5 linked regions of the Homo sapiens genome follow. The protein of the gene in region 5 purifies or fractionates together with the protein of the main gene of each other region. This does not show direct contact. Each region holds a gene or a part of one and is shown on either strand. Other genes may lie near its edges.

What was found.
Region 1: the proteins of MYL1 (region 5) and IQGAP3 purify together in Homo sapiens (co-immunoprecipitation; one large-scale study listed by IntAct). This does not show direct contact.
Region 2: the proteins of MYL1 (region 5) and TTC4 purify together in Homo sapiens (co-immunoprecipitation; one large-scale study listed by IntAct). This does not show direct contact.
Region 3: the proteins of MYL1 (region 5) and MFGE8 purify together in Homo sapiens (co-immunoprecipitation; one large-scale study listed by IntAct). This does not show direct contact.
Region 4: the proteins of MYL1 (region 5) and SEPTIN2 fractionate together in Homo sapiens (co-fractionation; one large-scale study listed by BioGRID). This does not show direct contact.

What each region holds. Positions count from the first base shown.
Region 1 is NC_000001.11:156,524,905-156,527,565, reverse strand, and holds the end of IQGAP3 (ras GTPase-activating-like protein IQGAP3), read left to right. Parts: intron 1-966; coding exon 967-1,080; 3' UTR 1,081-2,161; downstream 2,162-2,661.
Region 2 is NC_000001.11:54,725,861-54,729,360, reverse strand, and holds part of TTC4 (tetratricopeptide repeat protein 4), read right to left. Parts: intron 1,016-3,500; coding exon 929-1,015; intron 1-928.
Region 3 is NC_000015.10:88,900,333-88,903,900, forward strand, and holds part of MFGE8 (lactadherin isoform a preproprotein), read right to left. Parts: exon of another isoform or gene 1,851-3,568; intron 1,404-1,850; coding exon 1,219-1,403; intron 427-1,218; exon of another isoform or gene 325-426; intron 1-324.
Region 4 is NC_000002.12:241,335,878-241,340,347, reverse strand, and holds part of SEPTIN2 (septin-2), read right to left. Parts: intron 4,390-4,470; exon of another isoform or gene 4,374-4,389; coding exon 4,250-4,373; intron 2,967-4,249; coding exon 2,832-2,966; intron 2,676-2,831; coding exon 2,558-2,675; intron 1-2,557.
Region 5 is NC_000002.12:210,311,901-210,316,871, forward strand, and holds the start of MYL1 (myosin light chain 1/3, skeletal muscle isoform), read right to left. Parts: upstream 3,275-4,971; 5' UTR 3,143-3,274; coding exon 3,011-3,142; intron 1-3,010. UniProt on the Homo sapiens protein: Non-regulatory myosin light chain required for proper formation and/or maintenance of myofibers, and thus appropriate muscle function.

The sequences.
Region 1 (2,661 bases), on a different chromosome or scaffold from region 5:
CCAGTGTTCAGGAAAGGAGTGAAGCAACGGTGTTTTTGGTTGTGGTTGTTGTTGTTGCTTTTTTGGGTTTTTGTTTGTTTGTTTTCTTGAGACGGAGCCTTACTCCGTCACCCAGGCTGGAGTGCAATGGCGCAATCTCAGCTCACTGCAACCTCTGCCTCCTGGGTTCAAGCGATTCTCCTGCCTCAGCTTCCTGAGTAGCTGGGATTACAGGCGTGCGCCACCACACCGGCTTTTTGTGTATTTTTAGTAGAGATGGGGTTTCACCATGTTGGTCAGGCTGGTCTTGAACTGCTGACCTTGTGATCCGCCCGCCTCAGCCTCCCAAAATGCTGGGATTTACAGGCATGAGTCACCATGCCCAGCCGAGCAGTAGTTTTTAATCCAAATCTTTTTGCTCTGATGTTTTACCTTTTGAGTAAGAAAAATGATTTTGGCCGGGTGCAGTGGCTCACGCCTGTAATCCCAGCACTTTGGGAGGCCGAGGCGGGCGGATCACGAGGTCAGCAGTTCAAGACCAGCCTGGCCAATATAGTGAAACCCTGTCTCTACTAAAAATACAAAAATTAGCCTGGCGTGGTGGCACCTGCCTGTAATCCCAGCTACTCAGGAGGCTGAAGCAGGAAAATCGCTTGAACCTGGGAGGCGGAGATTGCAGCGATCCGAGATCGCGCCACTGCACTGTAGCCTGGGAGACCGAGTGAGACTCCGTCTCAAAAAAATAAATAAATAAAATAAGAAAAACAATTTCAAGCCCTGGTTCTGCTTGAGTTGACATTTGATCAAGTCACTGTACCTCTCTTGCCTCAGTTTCCTCATTTGTGAAGTGGGATTTCAATGCCCTACTTCAGTGGCCAGTGCCACTGGTGACTGCAGAAGGCCCCATGATGTGAGTGTTTTGTACACCATCTGACTGGACCACATTCAGAAGCCCTTAAACTCCCCTCCCTGCCTCTTCCCTCCTAGGATCTCCTGCAGCTCCAGTATGAGGGTGTGGCTGTCATGAAACTCTTCAACAAGGCCAAAGTCAATGTCAACCTTCTCATCTTCCTCCTCAACAAGAAGTTTTTGCGGAAGTGACAGAGGCAAAGGGTGCTACCCAAGCCCCTCTTACCTCTCTGGATGCTTTCTTTAACACTAACTCACCACTGTGCTTCCCTGCAGACACCTAGAGCTCAGGACTGGGCAAGGCCCAGGGATTCTCACCCCTTCCCCAGCTGGGAGGAGCTTGCCTGCCTGGCCACAGACAGTGTATCTTCTAATTGGCTAAAGTGGGCCTTGCCCAGAGTCCAGCTGTGTGGCTTTTATCATGCATGACAAACCCCTGGCTTTCCTGCCAGATGGTAGGACATGGACCTTGACCTGGGAAAGCCATTACTCTTGTGTCTGCTACTGCCCTCCCACAGTCACCCCAATATTACAAGCACTGCCCCAGCGGCTTGATTTCCCCTCTGCCTTCCTTCTCTCTGCACTCCCACAAAGCCAGGGCCAGGCTCCCCATCCCTACCTCCCACTGCATCAGCAGTGGGTGTTCCTGCCCTTCCTGAGTCTAGGCAGCTCTGCTGCTGTGATCTGCACACCCTCCAACCTGGGCAGGGACTGGGGGGATGCAGTGTGTGTTAGTGCCCATGTGGCATTGTGGCACTGTTGCCCCCCATGGCGGCATGGGCAAGATGACCTTCCATTAGCTTCAAGTCTTGTTCTCTTGTCTGTGGTCTGTTTAATATGTGGGTCACTAGGGTATTTATTCTTTCTCCCATCCTTACACTCTGGATCATTGTGCAGACTTAATCAGGGTTTTAACGCTTTCATTTTTTTTTTTTTTTTTTTTTTTTTGAGCTCAAAGAGAGTTCTCATTTTCCCTATTCAAACTAATACCCATGCCGTGTTTTTTACCTTGGATTTAAAGTCACCTTAGGTTGGGGCAACAGATTCTCACTCATGTTTAAGATCTTGTTATTTCAGCTTCATAAGATCAAAGAGGAGTCTTTCCCTTTTCTCTTTTACCCTCAGGATTCTCATCCCTTACAGCTGACTCTTCCAGGCAATTTCCATAGATCTGCAGTCCTGCCTCTGCCACAGTCTCTCTGTTGTCCCCACATCTACCCAACTTCCTGTACTGTTGCCCTTCTGATGTTAATAAAAGCAGCTGTTACTCCCACATCTGTTGTTAACCCTTATTTCATTTTCTGTAGAGCCGGCCTTTAAGTTCTGGAACACAGCTCCCTGAGAGAACTGGGGAATCCTTCCTGCAGCCTCCCCCAGCCCTCTGCCTGCCTCCGGTGTGGTCCTACTCTGCCTGCCTGAGATCGTAAAAGCTTAATGAGATGTGGCATTTATTCTCTCTTCCTTCCCCCGGGGGACAGAGAGGAGGAAGGAATGCTTAGGTTTCTATTCTGTTTTTATCGGCCACTCTGAAGACTAAAGCTGAGAAGAGAAGCCACTCTAATTTCTACCCCACCCGTTTTACACACAGTTCCTGCAGGTTCTTTTCCTGAGCCTTGGGTGGTGATATCAAAGGTGCTTAAGCCATAACTCCTTAGGTATTGTAGATTCTACACTCTGATCAAAATCTCCTTTCTGAAGGGAAAGCTCCCTCCTTTCCTCCTTGCTTTCAGAAAGTAGGGAGGGAAGTCTGTTGGGGAGGGGACAGTAGAGACA
Region 2 (3,500 bases), on a different chromosome or scaffold from region 5:
GCAGGTATTCAGTACAGTAGTGTCCCCTTATCCACGGTTTTGCTTTCCACAGATTCAGTTACCAGTGGTCAACCATGGTCTGAAAATATTAAATGAAAAATTCCAGAAATAAACAACCTGTAAGTTTTAAATTATGCACTGAGTAGCAGATGATGAAATCACGGGCTCTGCTCTTTGGCCAGCACATCCACGCTGTAGATGATACCCACCTGTGAGTTAGCACCCATCTCAATGATCAGATTGACTGTCATGGTATCACAGTCCCTGTATTAAGTAACACTCATTTTACTTAATAAGGACCCCAAAGCACAAGAGTACTGATGCTGGCAATTCGGATATGCCAAATAGAAGCTATAAACTACCTCCTTTAAGTAAAAAGGTGAAATTTCTCAACTTAATTAGAAGAAAAATTGTATGCTGAGGTTGCTAAGATCTATGGTAAGAGCAACCTTCTATCTGTGAAATTACAAAGAAGGAAAAAGAAATTCATGCTAGTTTTGCTGTTGCTGATGTACCTCAAACTGCAAAAATTATGGCCACAGTGTGTGATAAGTGCTTTAGCTAAGATAGAAAAGGCATTATATTTGTGGGTGGAAGACACAAACAGAAATGTGTTCTGACTGATGGCAATCAGGTTTGGAACTATTTGAGATTTCAAGCATCCACTGTGGATCCTGGAATACATCTGCTTCAGGTAAGTGGAGACAACTGTATATGTTACTGAGACCAACACATGCACATGAGAGAGCTGACTGAACTGGGGTGGCCTGACTCCAGAGCCTGGTCTCCTCTGTCACACTGCTTTACCAAAGTAGAAAGAAAATGAACAAATTCCTTCAGGTAAAGCATCCCAAGAAAGGTTCCCAACAAGCTTCACAGGATTAGTGGATTTAGCAGGACCATAAAAACCTAAGGTTTAAGAACTCACCTTGATGGCCTGGAGTAAAGCCTCATTCTGATTCCTCTCCTTCTTTTCTTTCAAGTTGGCTTTCCTCACATCCCTCTGTTCAATTCGCTAAAAATGAAATTTAGATGCATCAGCTCTAGAGACCTGGCTTCCTCTTCTATTGCACTAGCCTGCTCCTAAATTATTATCTCTGGCCTCTATCCAACCCAAGCTCCTGTGTTAAGGAATACCAGTGGCCAGATTCAGTTCAATAAACATTTACAAAGTACATGCCTAGATGTCAGACCCAGTGGCAGCAGCAGTTTAAATTTACTTCCTGTATGTACCCAAGGAACTCACAGTCTACTGAGGGGTTGAGGGGTACAGACAAGTAAAGAGCCAGTATAACAGGTGGATTATGTACTACTCTGGTCGTGTGATCCGAGTGCTACGAAACATAGCCTGGGTGACAGAAACCCTGTCTCTATAGATTTTTTTTAAAAAGTATAACCACCCTAGTGGGTATGCAATGGTATCTTACTATGGTTTTGATTTGCATTTCCTAATTATTAATGATGTTGAACATCTTTTCATGTGCTTTTTGGCCATTTGTGTGTCTTTGGAGAAGTGTCTATTCACATCCTTTCCTCATTTAAAAAACTGAGTTACCTGTCTTATTGAGATGATAAGAGTTGTTTATATGTTGTAGATAAAAGTCCCTTATGACTTACCAATATTGTCTTCCATTCTGTGGGCTTTTTCACTTTTTTTTTTTTTTTTTTTTTTGTAGAGATGAGGTCTCACTTTGTTGCCCAGGTTGGTCTCGAATTCCTGGCCTCAAGTGGTCCTCCTGCCCTGGCCTCCCAAAATGCTAGGATTACAGGTGTGAGCCACTGCATCTGGCCCCTTTTCACTTTTTTCTTCACATTTATCTTTTCATTTTTTTGATGGTATCCTTTGAAGCAAAAAGTTTTTACTTTTGATGAAGTGCAATCAATCTACTTTTCCTTTTGTTGCTTGTGCTTTGTGTCATATCCAAGTTCATGAAGATTCATATCTATGTTTTCTTTTAAGAGTTGTATAGTCTTAGCTCTTACATTTGGGTATTTGATCTACTTTGGGTAACTTTTTTATATAGTATGAGGTAAAGTTCTAGCTTCATTCTCCCACATGTGAATATCCAGTTGTCCCACTATCCTTTGTTGAAAAGATTACCTCCCTATTGAATGGTCTTGGCACACTTGTTGAAAATAAATTCCCCATAAATGTGAGGGCTTATTTCTGAGCTCTAAATTTTATTACATTGACCTATATGTCTATTGTTATGCCAGTACCACAATGCCTTGATTACTGTAGCTCTGTCGTATGTTTTGAAATTGGGAAGTGTGAGTCTTCCAATTTTGTTTTTTTTTTTTTTTTGTCTTTCATGATTGTTGGTCATTCAGAGTCCCTTGAATTTCTATGTGAATATTATGATCAGCCTGTCCATTTCTGCAGAGAAGCCAATTGGACTTTTGATACAGATTGCACTGAAATTAGCCAGATGTGGCATCACATGCCTATAGTCCCAGTTGCTTGGGAGACTGAGGCAGGAGGGCTGCTTGAGCCCAGGAGTTTGAGGTTGCAGCGAGCCATGATCATACCACTGCACTCCAGCCTGAATATTAGAGCAAGTTCATGTCTCAAAAAAGAAAATTACACTGAATTGATACACTAATTTTGGGAGTATTGCCATCTAACAATATTAAGATCTAATCTATGAACATGGGATGTCTTCCTATTTACTTAGGTCTTCTTTAATTTCTTTCAACAATGTTTTTTGTATTTTTAGAGTATAAGTTTTAGCTACTTTTGTTAAATGTACTCATAAGTGTTTTTTGATGCTATTTAAAATGGAATTGTTTTCTTAAGTTCATTTTCAGAGTGTTCATTAAAAATCTATAGAATACAAATGATTTTTGTGTACTGGTGATGTTGTTTCCAACAAGCTTGCTGAACTTAGTTCCAAGAGTTTTTTAGTGGATCCCTTAGGATTTTCTATATACACGGTCAAGTTGTCTGCATATAGATGGTTTTACTACTACTTCTCTTCCACTCTTTCATTTTTGAAGAATAGATTTGCTAGATATAGAATTCTTACAGTCTTTTTCTTTTAGCTCTTTGAATATGTCATTTACCTGCCTTTTGGCCTTCATGGCTTCTGATGAGAAAGCTGTTAATTTTCCTTAGGATTTTTTGTACATAAAGAGTCATTTTTCTCTTGCTGCTTTTAAGGTTCTCTTCTTTGTTTTTCAACAGTTTAATTATAATGTGTTTAGGTAGAGATCACTTTAAGTTTATCCCACTTATAGTTTGTTAAACTTTTTGGATGTATACATCAGTGTTTTTCACCAAATTTGGGAAGTTTATGGCCAATATTTCCCCAAGTATTCTTTTGCCCATTCTCTCTCTTCTCTCCTTCTAGGACCCCCACTATGCCTTTGTTGGTATGCTTGATGGCATCATACAAGTCTCTCTTCATCCTTATTCTTTTCTCATTCTGTTCTTCAGACTGGATAATCTCAACTGATACATCTTAAGTGTGATGATTCTCATTACTGCCTGCTCAAATGCG
Region 3 (3,568 bases), on a different chromosome or scaffold from region 5:
CATAGGGTCTGGGCCCTGGCCAACTCCACGCCAACCACCCCTGCCTGAGACCTGCACTGCACTGTGATGGGAAGAAGGACAGGAGAGGCCACAGCCTGGAGGGGCATGAACTGCTCTAGAGGCTCCCTGCGGCGCCGCCCACAGTCTGACACTGGTCCTGAGGGTGTCCACAGGCAGGCAGCTCCTCAGGGAACCCAGCTCCGCAGTGTGCTCCATGGGGCCCTGAGACAGACCTCCTGTCCCCGGTCCCTGACCTCCCTGGAGAACCTGCCAGCTGCACCTGGACACACAGTTCCCCAACATCCAGGTGTAAACCCAACTCACTGCCAGCCAGCAGGTGGGTACTAGGCAGATCATCGTCCTGCCAGCTCTCGGCTTCCTCATCTATAAAACAAGCTCCGGTTTTCCATGGCTCTCTTTTGTTTCCTAGTTTCAATGACAGACAAGGGCTGTCACATGGTGGCTTCTTAGACACTGAGTCAGAGAATATGTATGCTGTGCTCAAGGGAGAGGTCCCAAGATGCCTGGGTCATGTCTCCCTCTTCCGCCTCCGCCCTGCTGTCTGTCCATAGGCTGAGCCTTGTCAATCCTGTGGCAGCCCATGGAATGGCTCTCCCCTTGTGTACACACATACACACACATTCACACACACACATTCACACACACACATTCACACACACACACACATTCTCACACACACATATTCACACACATTCACACATACACATTCACATACACATTCACATACACATTCACACACATTCACAAATACACATTCACACATACACATTCACACACACACATTCACACACACATTCTCACACACACATTCACACACATTCTCACACATTCACACACACATTCACACATTCACACACACACATTCACACATACACATTCACACACACATTCACACGCACGCATTCACACGCACGCATTCACACACACTCACATTCACACACATTCACACACTCACACACACACATTCACACACACACACACATACACACACACACCCTTTCTCCACCTTGGTGGAAGCAGGATCAAGAGAAGGGAGTACAGGTGGGAAGAAGAAAGAAAAGCCGAAGAAAAACAAGGCTTTTCCAGAACTCTTTTGGGGAGCAGAAGAGAAGCCTGGGCTGGAGAGAGGTCAAAGATCTGGCAGTCCCACCTCATCCCACCCAACCCCAGCCCCATATCCCAAGAAGGCTGACCCACCTGCAGCCACTGATCGTTACCGTAGCTCCCCGCAACCCAGGCGTTGAAGTTGCCCTGCTTGTCCAGCCGTGCATAGGAGGGGTTCCAGCTGAAGAGATGCAAGCCCCAGGTCTTGTAGCTGCTGGAGGCCGTGATCTGCTTGTCAGGGATGCTGTTATTCTTCAGGCCCAGGGGATTGGCGCATCCTGCCAGCAAGGTGGGCTGTCATCTGGATCTGGGATCCACAGCTCCCAGGGGCAGGAGCACAAGGCGATGAAGCAGAAAGAACTCTGTGGATCCTGACCAGCCCCTGTCATGCTCTTGGGCAACAGAAAGCAGCTCCATCCGCCTTGCAGGGCCAACTGTGCGACCTTCTCACTGCCGACCCCACCACCTCCTCACCTCAACCAGCCGGGCTCAGCTCCTCACAGATCACCCAAGACCTCCCACTCACCACCCTTCTCCTCTGCACCAGGGAAGGCCCCTGCTCCACCACCTCCTGCCCTCCTTCAATGCCTGACTTTGGAGACACCTCCTCCAAGAAGTCTGCCCTGACTACTTCACTTGGGCAGGATTTCTTCCTCTTCTGGACTCACAGCACTGCCCCCATCGCCTCGGCCTCCCATCCGTCCCATGGCACAGTCACTATCTACTTTAATAACAACCACATTGTTTATTCAGTGCTTACTTCAGTCATTTAACCTGCCACCAAAAAAAAAAAGAAAAAAAAACACTAAATGAAGTAGAAATTAGTAAGCCCATTCTATAGATGAGAAAACTGAAAGACATTAAGCATCATGCTCAAGTCACATACAAACTCCTAATGTCACACTATGACGTCACCTCTACCAGCTACACATCCCAGCTAGATGATGAAGGCCTGCCTAGTGACGACCCAGTGATGAACAGGACAACATCCCTGCCCTCCAGCAGCTGGCAGTTAGAGAAATCAGACAACTCCTGGGGCACAGGAACATCTCTATTTCCATTCCCCAGAAGCCCCCTGACTTAGTGTCTCCCAGAGGGCCTTCGCACACTCAAATGTTCTGGGGATGCTGTCACACAGGCCTGTGAGGGCTGGCCCGGGAAGCTGGCCTTTGTTTCACTCAGCCCTGCCCCAAACACTCAGGAATGTGCCGGGCTGCCTTGCACTTGTATCTGCACCTGCATATGGATAGAACAGTTGGGGATGGGCAAGAGATACAACTCCCAAGAGAATGATGGGGGTGTCTCCCACCTGGAAGAATCCTCACTCCACAAGTGTCTATCCCTCTGGGGAATTGAGGGAGGCAGGAGTGGACGGTGGGACTGGAGAGCCCCCTGCCCTCTGGGAGCCAGCTAAGTTATATCACTGCCCTCCAATACTCTCACCACTCAAGAGTACTGGGAGCCAGCTAAGTTATATCACTGCCCACCTGTACTCTCACCACTCAAGACATTTGCCTCCAGGGTGTGTTGACAATGCCTGCTGATGGTACCATCATCTCCTGATGGTGATGCACCAGGGAACCACCACCTTCCCCCTCAAAGAGAGGCTCCCGGGCTGAGAGCTGGTTGTCCCTTGGCCCCAGAAGAGGAGAGGCCTGAGGCAGGCTAAAACCTGGGCAGCTTTGCAGAGGACACCAATTCTGCACAATGTGCTCAACGCAGACCCCTCTACAGATCATCTGCTTCTAGTGGTTCATACCCTCCTCACTCTCAGCCTCCCCAGGAAGTCAGACAGCCTTTCTGGTAAAATGCAGTTGGAAGGGGCACCAGGGCAGGGACAGGACTGTCAGCTCCAGCACTCTAGGAAGTCCCTTCCTCTCTCTGGCTCTCAGTCTCCCCATCTATAAAATGAGATACTAGGGGAGTAATTCTCACAGATCACCTGGGGATCTTGATATAAAAAAAAAAAGCTTATGTTTCAGCAAGTCTAGGCTGGGGCTTTCAGTCTGTATTTCTTTTTTTTTGTTTTTTTGTTTGTTTGTTTGAGACACAGTCTCGCTCTGTCACCCAGGCTGGAGTGCAGTGGCATGATCTCGGCTCACTGCAACCTCCACCTTCTGACCGGGTTCAGGCAATTATCCTGCCTCAGCCTCCCTAGTAGCTGGGATTACAGGCACCTGCCACCACGCCTGGCTAATTTTTGTATTTTTTTAGTAGAGACGGGGCTTCGCCATGTTGGCCAAGCTGGTCTTGATCTCCTGACCTCAGGTGATCCGCTCGCCTCGGCCTCCCAAAGTGCTGGGATTACAGGCGTGAGCCACCGCACCCGGCCTCAGTCTGCATTTCTAAGAAGCTCCTAGGTGATGACACTGCGGGTCCCTGGGGCTCTTCACCCACCAAGCTGCCCCTCCATCTCTTGGCTCCAGCTCCACTGGCCTTCCTT
Region 4 (4,470 bases), about 31 Mb from region 5:
CTAAAAATAAGTATATGTGTTAAGTCAATAAAAAAGCAAGAGCCAAGTCCCTGCAACCTGAGAGAATACACCAACCGGCATCAACACCAGCACAGATACTCACATCGGCAATCAAGGAAAGGCAAATTCAAATGAGATACAATTTCTCAGACAGGAAACACATTACAAAAACTGGCAACATAACCAGGACAGTTTTAGGGGGTGGAGAGAAGAGTACACTTTGGAAATGTAAATTGTTACAAACTTACTTTAGAGCAAATTTAGTCATCCTTCAAAAATTTAAATGTATACTTATTTCCTAAGAATTCGTTTGGCTCACACAATTGTGAAAAGATAGATGTACACCAGTGTTCATTACAACAATTATGCAACAAATCTATTATGTGCCAGACATTATTCGGAACTCTGGGAATACATAAGTGAACAAAGCAGATTCCTGATCTCAGGACCTGGGGTCAGGGGTCAGGAGAAGCCAAAAAACACGCTAGAGAAATACTTTATGCAGTGTGGGGGGAGTGCTACCAGCAGAGCAGGGGATGGAGATGTGAAATCTTGTGTGCAGCGTTGGGCTCAGTGAGGGAGTTCCCCACACAGGTATCTGAGGGAAGACTGTTCCAGGCAGAGGGTATCACTAGCAAAAGCAGCGAGCAAGGGGCAAAGAAACAGTAAATTTGGTCAAAGAAGAAAAGGGGCCAGAGTAAAACAAAAAGTAAGCCAAATATTCATCAGCAGGAAACTGGACAAGTTAGAGTATATTCATATGGTGGAATGCTGTGCATCCAGGAAGAATTAGGATACAGTATATATATGAGGATGCTTCCAAATATTTTTAAATAGAAAAATCAAATGGCAGAATAGTATTACTATGTGATTTCATTCTGCAAAACCAAAAACATAAGCTATGTTCTAGAAGGATATATACTTAACAGTTGTTCTTTCTGTGGGTAATTACAGAAATTCTTTTTTTTTTTTCTTGAGACGGAGTCTTGCTCTGTCACCCAGGCTGGACTGCAAACAACCTCTGCCTCCTGGGTTGAAGCGATTCTTTTGCTTCAGCCTCCTGAGTGGCTGGGACTACAGATGCCCGCCACCACGCCCGGCTAACTTTTGTAATTTTTTAGAGACGGAGTTTTGCCATGTTGGCCAGGCTGGTCTCGACCTCCTGACCTCTGGTGATGTGCCTGCCTCAGCCTTCCAAAGTGCAGGGATTACAGGCGTGAGCCACCACACTCGGCCTAGAAACTCTTTTATTTTAAAAAATATATGTATATTATATTTATATATATATAATATATAAAAATGTATATATAATATGTATATAAATATAATGTATAAATATAATATTTATATATATTTATAAATATATTTATATATTATATTTATAATATATATTATATATATAATATATATAATAAATATATGTACAATTATATATATTATATATAATATATATAATATATATTATAGATATATTAAATATATATATTTTTATATATATTATATATTTATTATATATATTATATATAAATAATATAAATATAATATGTATTATATATAAATAATATAAATATAATATATATAAACAATATAAATATATTACATATAAATAATATAATATATATAATATATTATATAAATAATATAAATATAATATATATTACATATGTAATATAAATAATATAGATATAATATATATGTAATATATATTATATATATTTATTAATTATATATTATATATATAAAATATATATATATATTTTTTTAGAGACAGCGTATTGCTATGTTGCTGAGGTTGGCCTCCAACTTCTGGGCTCAAGTGATCCTCCTGCCTGAACCCCCTGCTGTATCCCCCTACCCTGCCCCAGCAACTGTGATTACACGCACAGATCGGTATGTTCATTTAGGGATTTGTATTTTTATGCACGTACCGGTATGTTCAGTTAGGGATTTGTATTTTTAGAGTTTAGCATATATAAACTATTTGGACTTTCTTAAGGAGCATATAATCAGAACAAAGTAAGCAATTTAAAAATATATAGCAGAGAATCAATAAAGAGGCTTTACAGACATACACGGAAGAGGCACTAAAACTGGGACACCACAGGAGCTGCTGGCGGGTGAGAGGCGCTTCGCTGGCTGACAACTGCTATGTTTCCAAACAGAACAGAGAACCAGTCTACTTAGATACATCCTTGTATGGGTCATTTGCAGTAAAGAATTTAGGTAAAATAACAAACTTCATGGAGAGATCACATTTCTATATTTGAGTCATTTAACTCCCATGGAAGGTACTTGTGTGTAACCAACTGCTACTCATCGAGGGCATTTTAAATATAAGGAGAATTTAAAGAATAGAAATTTGATACCTTCATGAAGGCAAAAATTAAAATTTGTAACCATCAGGTTCTCCTTGAAAACCACCACTAAAATGCAGGAAAAATTCTCCCGCCCTGCCTCCCGACACCTGAGCAGACTGAGCGTGGGAACACACTCCTTTCTTCATCCCCATGCCCCCGAGTCGCACCCAGAGGGAGGGCAGGACGCCAGCCTCACTCACCCTTTTCTTCAGCCGCTCCCGTTCCTTCAGGGTGAGAGTGTCAGCTTTTGCAATGACAGGCACAATATTCACCTTGTTGTGTATTGCCTTCATAAACGCCACATCTAAGGGCTTAAGTCTAAAATTAATTTTAGAATTGTCACTTATTTAAAAAAAATACATACAAAACTCTTCTCTCTCAAATTATCTTAATTCTTATATTAAAATACACAGTTTGGGTAAAACTTACAAACCCATGTAGTAAAGCATTTCTCCACGATAAACAATTACTTACCCATGTCCAAAAGGTGAAATAAAGTAAAAGCAACAATGCACCCTATTATCAATGATGTGCCGCCTGTTCAAGCCGCTCTCGTCATGCAGGTACCTCTCAAATTGCTCATCAATATAGGAGATAATTGTCTTAAAACTGAGAGAAACAGAAACATTAACAATAATCATAGGGTATAAAACAGGGGGTCCCTGACTTCAAAGGGAAAACAAGTGCCTCCGCCCAAATATACATAATTTAATAATTCATTTTCAAGATGAGAACAGAAGACTGACTTTTAGATTTGGCAAATGGAAGTTTTTGGAAACTATGCCAAGCATAACTGCCCCTAAGTGCTGAGAGTCAAAAGCCTGAATGGAATAGGTTATGATGCACCTGAGAGAGGGCCAGTGTAGACAGGGCTGCCAATTCGTTCTTTTTTTTTTTGAGACTGAGTCTTGCACTGTTGCCCAGGCTGGAGTGCAGTGGCGTGATCTCGGCTCACTGCAACCTCTGCTTCCAGGGTTCAAGCGATTCTCCTGCCTCAGCCTCCCAAGTAGCTGGGATTATAGGCACACGCCACCACGCCCGGCTAATTTTTGTATTTTTAGTAGAGACAGGGTTTCACCATGTTGGCCAGGCTGGTCTCGAACTCCTGACCTTGTGATCAGCCCACCTCAGCCTCCCAAAGTGCTGGGATTACAGGCATGAGCCATCGCACCCAGCCAGGGCTGCCAATTCTTTTCAGGAACGTGACTGTGAAAAGGGGCAGAGGAACAGGGTGGTAGAGAACATGGGTCAAGAACAGGTTTATCTGAGCTGGGAAACAGCATTTAACTGAGCTGGGAAACAGTACAGCACTTTCACATGTAAGAAGGGAGAAATTCCTAAATGTAGGAGAAAGATAACAGAACCTTCCCCTTTTCATCTAGTGGTGGAAACCTGATGCTTTATGTTGACAGGAATAGAACCAGGAGGGAGTTTGTACAACAAAAGTGGCATTCTTTGCACGGTACAGGTGACAGACTGCTCTATCTTCTACTTCTTCATTTCCTTATTTGTGAAAATGATGCCAATGAGCAGTCATTTACAGACACTACGACTCAACCCACTCTCTAACAGGTTTCACTTCCTTCCACATAGAAAGGATGTACTACAGTATCTCGGTCACCAACCACGGCTCAAATCCAGGTGTTTCATTTATACTAGCAGTCTATGGATGACTGGCTTTGCGATCTCAAATTACAGTAGAGTACCAGAAAAAAATTACTCTCTATAAAATTCCTTATTTAAAAAGTCAACATTTAACACGCTTTAAATTGTCTAGGTGTTTTATTATATACAGCAATCCCAAACTTAATAATCACTCATTAACACTATCTATAAATTTATGAAGTATATTAAGTAAACAAATGCAGATCCCTGGGCATGGGGGAGCATACCAATCTCTGCAGTTGATAGCGTCACCATAGCCAGGGGTATCTACCACTGTCAGGCGTAGCTTGACCCCTCGCTCTTCAATTTCAACAGTTGAAGCCTCAATCTGGACAGTTCTTTCAATTTTTTCTAGAAAAGAAACAAACTTAATAGGGAATATAAGCAGCATGTGAAGAGGAAAGCTCACGTTCTTACGACAGGTGACTTCAGAGTCTACTGCCTCTCT
Region 5 (4,971 bases):
TTGAAAAGGGTACTCATAGAAAATCCATTAGGATTGGACATCAAGTAAGCATTCCTTCAGAGAGTATCATAAAATTTGTGTCAGAACAATTGAAGAAATGTTGTAAACTAATAACTAACAAACCAGGAAATCAGATTGGAAAGCACATTTAAGCAGTTGATAAAACTAATTAATTATATTCAAGATTATTCAAGATTTATGGGGGAATCAAATATATGGCTATTAAATGTAGTATATTACAATATGAAACATAGATATTAGCTGGGAATACTATGGAGAAATTAAATTTTACCATGGCTATGACTATAGTACTACACAAAGGCAGTTATGATTAAACTACAGCATTACTCAAAGTCTAGAGGACAGCTAAGTTTCTAATCTTTTTTGATTTATGAAAGAAAGTTTATAATCCAATTAAGTTTTGTTCTTTATTGAATTTTCAGAAAGTTAATGAATACATATAACAGCTCTATTAATTTCTTTAAAGTTCATTTTCTCTGCTTGAAAAAATTGTATAGCTTTTATGAGGTAATATATCTAGAAACATTATTAAGTGATTAAAAACATCATAATATAAAATGTTTTAATGTATGTTTTAATTAGGCCTGTTACCTCCTGGGATAAAATTAAAGTTTATAAAATTCTTGAGTTGTATCACTTTCTTTGGCCATGCTAGAATACATCTAAATATGCACTGATTTATTTCATATTAATGAATGCAAAGCATTGAAGATATTTACATTTCTTTACAAAAGTGTGTTAGTTTCCATTTGTTTCTCTTTTTTTTCTCTGTTGCAAATGGGCCTTCTGGATGGAAGATAAAGGTTATTTTTTTTCCTGTTTCTTCCAGATTCATTTAACTTCTTTTTGATTTGTGTCCCTTACTAGAATCCATCACATCTCTTGTTCTGCAATGAAATAATAAAGATGGAGCATACCCAATTCTCATAGAGACACTCCAGGGGTATTTCCTTCTTTTGCTTAGTTGTATAAGCTTATATTGTATCCTCACAATATTACACAATATTAAGCTTGTACAACTCAATTTAACATATTGACAGACGAATGTCAATATGTCAATTTAACATATTGACAGAATAATAAACAAATTTTCAAGATTCTGAAAAGTGTTGCTTCTCTGCTGACTATGAACAAGTAATTGGCTTAATTTCTGGATTAGAAAAGAGATGTTTTGTCTTTTCTTGGAGATCTCTCACCTGCCAAACAATTTTTATTTATGTACTCATTCTTACACAGTTCCTCAGGGAAGAAAATTAATGCCTGTTTTCATTAGTTAGATACTTCATTTGCTTCTTAGGTAAAGAGGTACATTTTCTTTTCTTTACAGAAGTTTGTAATACCAGATACAAACAGGTAACATTGTCTTATAAATCACAATAAATAAAGGACTAGCTTTGACACTGATTCATATCTCTTATGTTACTACAGAGTGCAGAGTTAAAGATGAGGGACAATCAGAATTACTATCATGGCTATGATCTCACTTATTGTGTAATGTAGACAGTATGCATCTATAAAGGATACATTAACTAGGATTGCTGGAGATGAAAAATTTGGTTTCCTCTTAAAGAACTGTATGCATGCAGTCCTCAAGTTAGAAAAACATTTATCAGAAGACCTGACATGCATTTTTTTGTCCTCCTAAATGGATATCCATTAAGAATAGTTCTTAATATTATATTCCATGACCAATTTTTTTCAAATACTTCAAATACCTACAAACTAAAGATTAAATATTCGTGATAATTTACTTATACTTTAAACAAAATTTCATGTTTAATTGGAATGTTATATAAATTATAAATATATTTAACTTCATTACATAATGTCTAAGGGTGATCTAACTAAATATTTTTGGGACTTAAAAAATTCTATAGTTATATTAAATGGTCAATGAAATGTTTGTTTATGGGTCAGCATCATAGTTACAAGTAAACAATGGTAAATTGGCAAAATTGAGATTTATTACATATACAACTTTTGGCTTAAGTGAAAAGTTCACCTCATGGGTACTATTGCTCATTGATTTTCCATATAAGGCAGGTTTCCTTAGATAAAAATTTTCAAGTTGTAATATGAGCCAATCAGAACTCAGTGAATGAAGAGAAGGTGCACATTTAATGAGTCACATCACTGGAAGTTAACAGACGTACCTATTTTTCCAAAAGCAGATAATCTTTTGGCAATTGAGAACTTTGATCACAGCAAAGTGTTAACACAATAATTAATCACATTTTTCTTAGTCCAAGATCAGTAGGCAAATACTCTAAGACATAAGCTAAAAGCCATGTAAATAACAAATTTTATAATTATTTTTGTTAGTTTCATTTAGAAGAAACTCACAAATTCTGAATTAAATACTGTGTATAAATAAACAAGATGACAGTTACAGTCACTGAAACACTTGAGTGCATAATTTTCTGCACTGAGATCTCATTTAGTGTTGTATCAAATTTTATTAGGCAAAGCTGAAGGGAGAATTAACTTGAATTGCAAAAAATCTTCTTTTTCAGAAGAAGGAAAGTAACTGTCAAATACATAAAGGACAACCGGGCCATCAGCTGTTTTTAAACTTCTGGAAATAAGTAGGGGCTAAAACGTTCCTTTTGATGTAATTTGTAAGTAAGGGATCTGGTTTCCAGAGAGATTTTATTTAAACCCAAACACTGGTTTAAATATTCTTAAATGCAACACTGTTAAGCATATATACTTTTCTCCTAAACAGTATAAGTGCAATTTAGGAGAAAATGGAAACTTGAGAATAAAAAATAGAGCAAGCACAGGCTTCACATATGATACCATACTCTAATAATTTTTGAAATTATATGCTGGCATTCATTTTTTAAAGCAGGATTCTCTTCTTCATAATCTACCAGCTCACTAAATAATGCTATTCCTCTCAATGAAAAATACACGCCTTTGCAAGTTCCTAGAGATCCTTACTATTGAAAGATGTTTCAGTGACCAAACAGTTCATCCATTTAGTTACCTTAATGGCAGAGAGGTCAATTTTTTCTTCTTTGGGTTTGGCTGGGGCAGGGGCAGGTGCAGGTGCCGGTGCCGGGGCTGGGGCAGCCGCAGCCGCAGCCACAGGTTTCTTCACGTCTTTCTTTGGTGCCATTTTTTTTTTTAAAAGGGTGGGTTAAAAAGAGAAGGAGTTCCTCCAAAAGAACCTGTCAAAATGATTCTTGGAAGAGGAGTGGTGGTTGGGTTGATCCACAGCCCAGTGTCTTGAAGATGGACCCAGAGTGTTAAACGGCATAAGGGCATGCATATATATTTCACTTAGTGCCTAATAGAATCTTGACACATGCGGCTGGATTGGACAGTTCTCTAGTCAAGGGGGATGGCATTCCGGCTCAGACTATAAATGGAATCTAAAGGGTCAGGGCTTCATCAATTTTTTTTAACTCTCTTTCCTTTTTTTCTCCCCCCCCCACCTCCATATATAAAGGAGAAAGATATATGACAAAGCCAGCTTCAGATCCTTTGGTGACAGTGAGGTAGATTGACTGTACTTTTTCTTGGTAGAATTACAGTTCTGCTGAAGTTGTAAATCTTTTTTTCCCACCTTGCCTAAGAGACTTTACTGAAGGATTCCATTTCAACTTGGAATTTTGGCAGGGAGTATCACCAACTTTCACACAGCTCCTTTGCTCATGCTCCTCCCCCCTTGCCATAATTTGCAAGGAAATGTTGGTCAGCAAAGAGGTGGTGGTGGTTAAAAATAAAAAAGCAGACGTATAAGGAAAGCCCATCATGTCTTAAAGTGGCTTCCCTTCTAGGGAGCACAGACTCTGGCACTCTTTCTCTCCTTTAATTGTAGTGAATTCTATGCCAAAAAACTTCAACATGACTTCCTATAATTTAATTTTCTTTGTATAATTTAATGAAGCATATCAAATGGATGGAAATGACAGCAAGATTTACCTTCTTGCAAAACAACTTTTCTAATAGTAAAGTAGCTTCCAAGAAAAGTAGATACTTATAGATATTTATTTTCTAAATGGTGTAAAGTCTAATTATTTATCACATAAATCTTTTGTCCATACTAGAGAGACAAAATACATTTTTAGAGACATAAAGAGAGAGAAGAACTTTAATTATCAACACTGTGCAAGTTGTGGTAACTTGAAAGTTTTTCCTTTTCTGTCCTTGGTTTCCTCAGTTTGCAAGGCTAGACTCATATCGAGAAATTTAAGACCACCAATGGGCACTTTATAACTTTGTATGTGGTAAATTCTGCCAGAGAGGGGGTTACAATTAGTAATCAGTTATTTCTCAGTCCCACTCTCATCTCTGTTGTTTTAACTTGTGAGATATTTAATTAATGAGTAGTTATTAACCAGTTTAAAAAAATAGTTTGGGTTTTAAAAGAGCACATTTATACATTTTATATATATAAAGGATATATATACAAACACACATATGTTTACTGTATGTGTATATATACATATATACATTTACTGTATGTGTGTATATATACATCCATACATGTGTACAAATGTATGTGTAAATACACACATATTCTAATTGTTAAATATAGTTGTGTTTAAAGATACAGATTAATTAGCCACTTTCTTGGGTCTGATATAAAAGCATTCACCAACTTGGAGAAGGTCACTATTTCTGTCCATATATTACAACTAAGCAAGATTAAGACTCTCAGATCAGAAATAATTCACCTAAGTTACAATTGACCCACAGTTAATCAGTCTCCTTTTTCACATGGTGGCACGATCTACTGAATTATATTATCCATGTATATTACAGGAAAAACATTTTGATAGCTCCCTCCTTTGTTTCCCCATATCAAGGACTCAATCATTATCTAAATTTAGCTGCTGATACTCATTTTTTACATACAGGACAGTCAGAAGAATCTGAACATATTTTACCTAGAATACTGTCTCATATTTAAATAATCAGGATAGATTTTTAAAATAATGC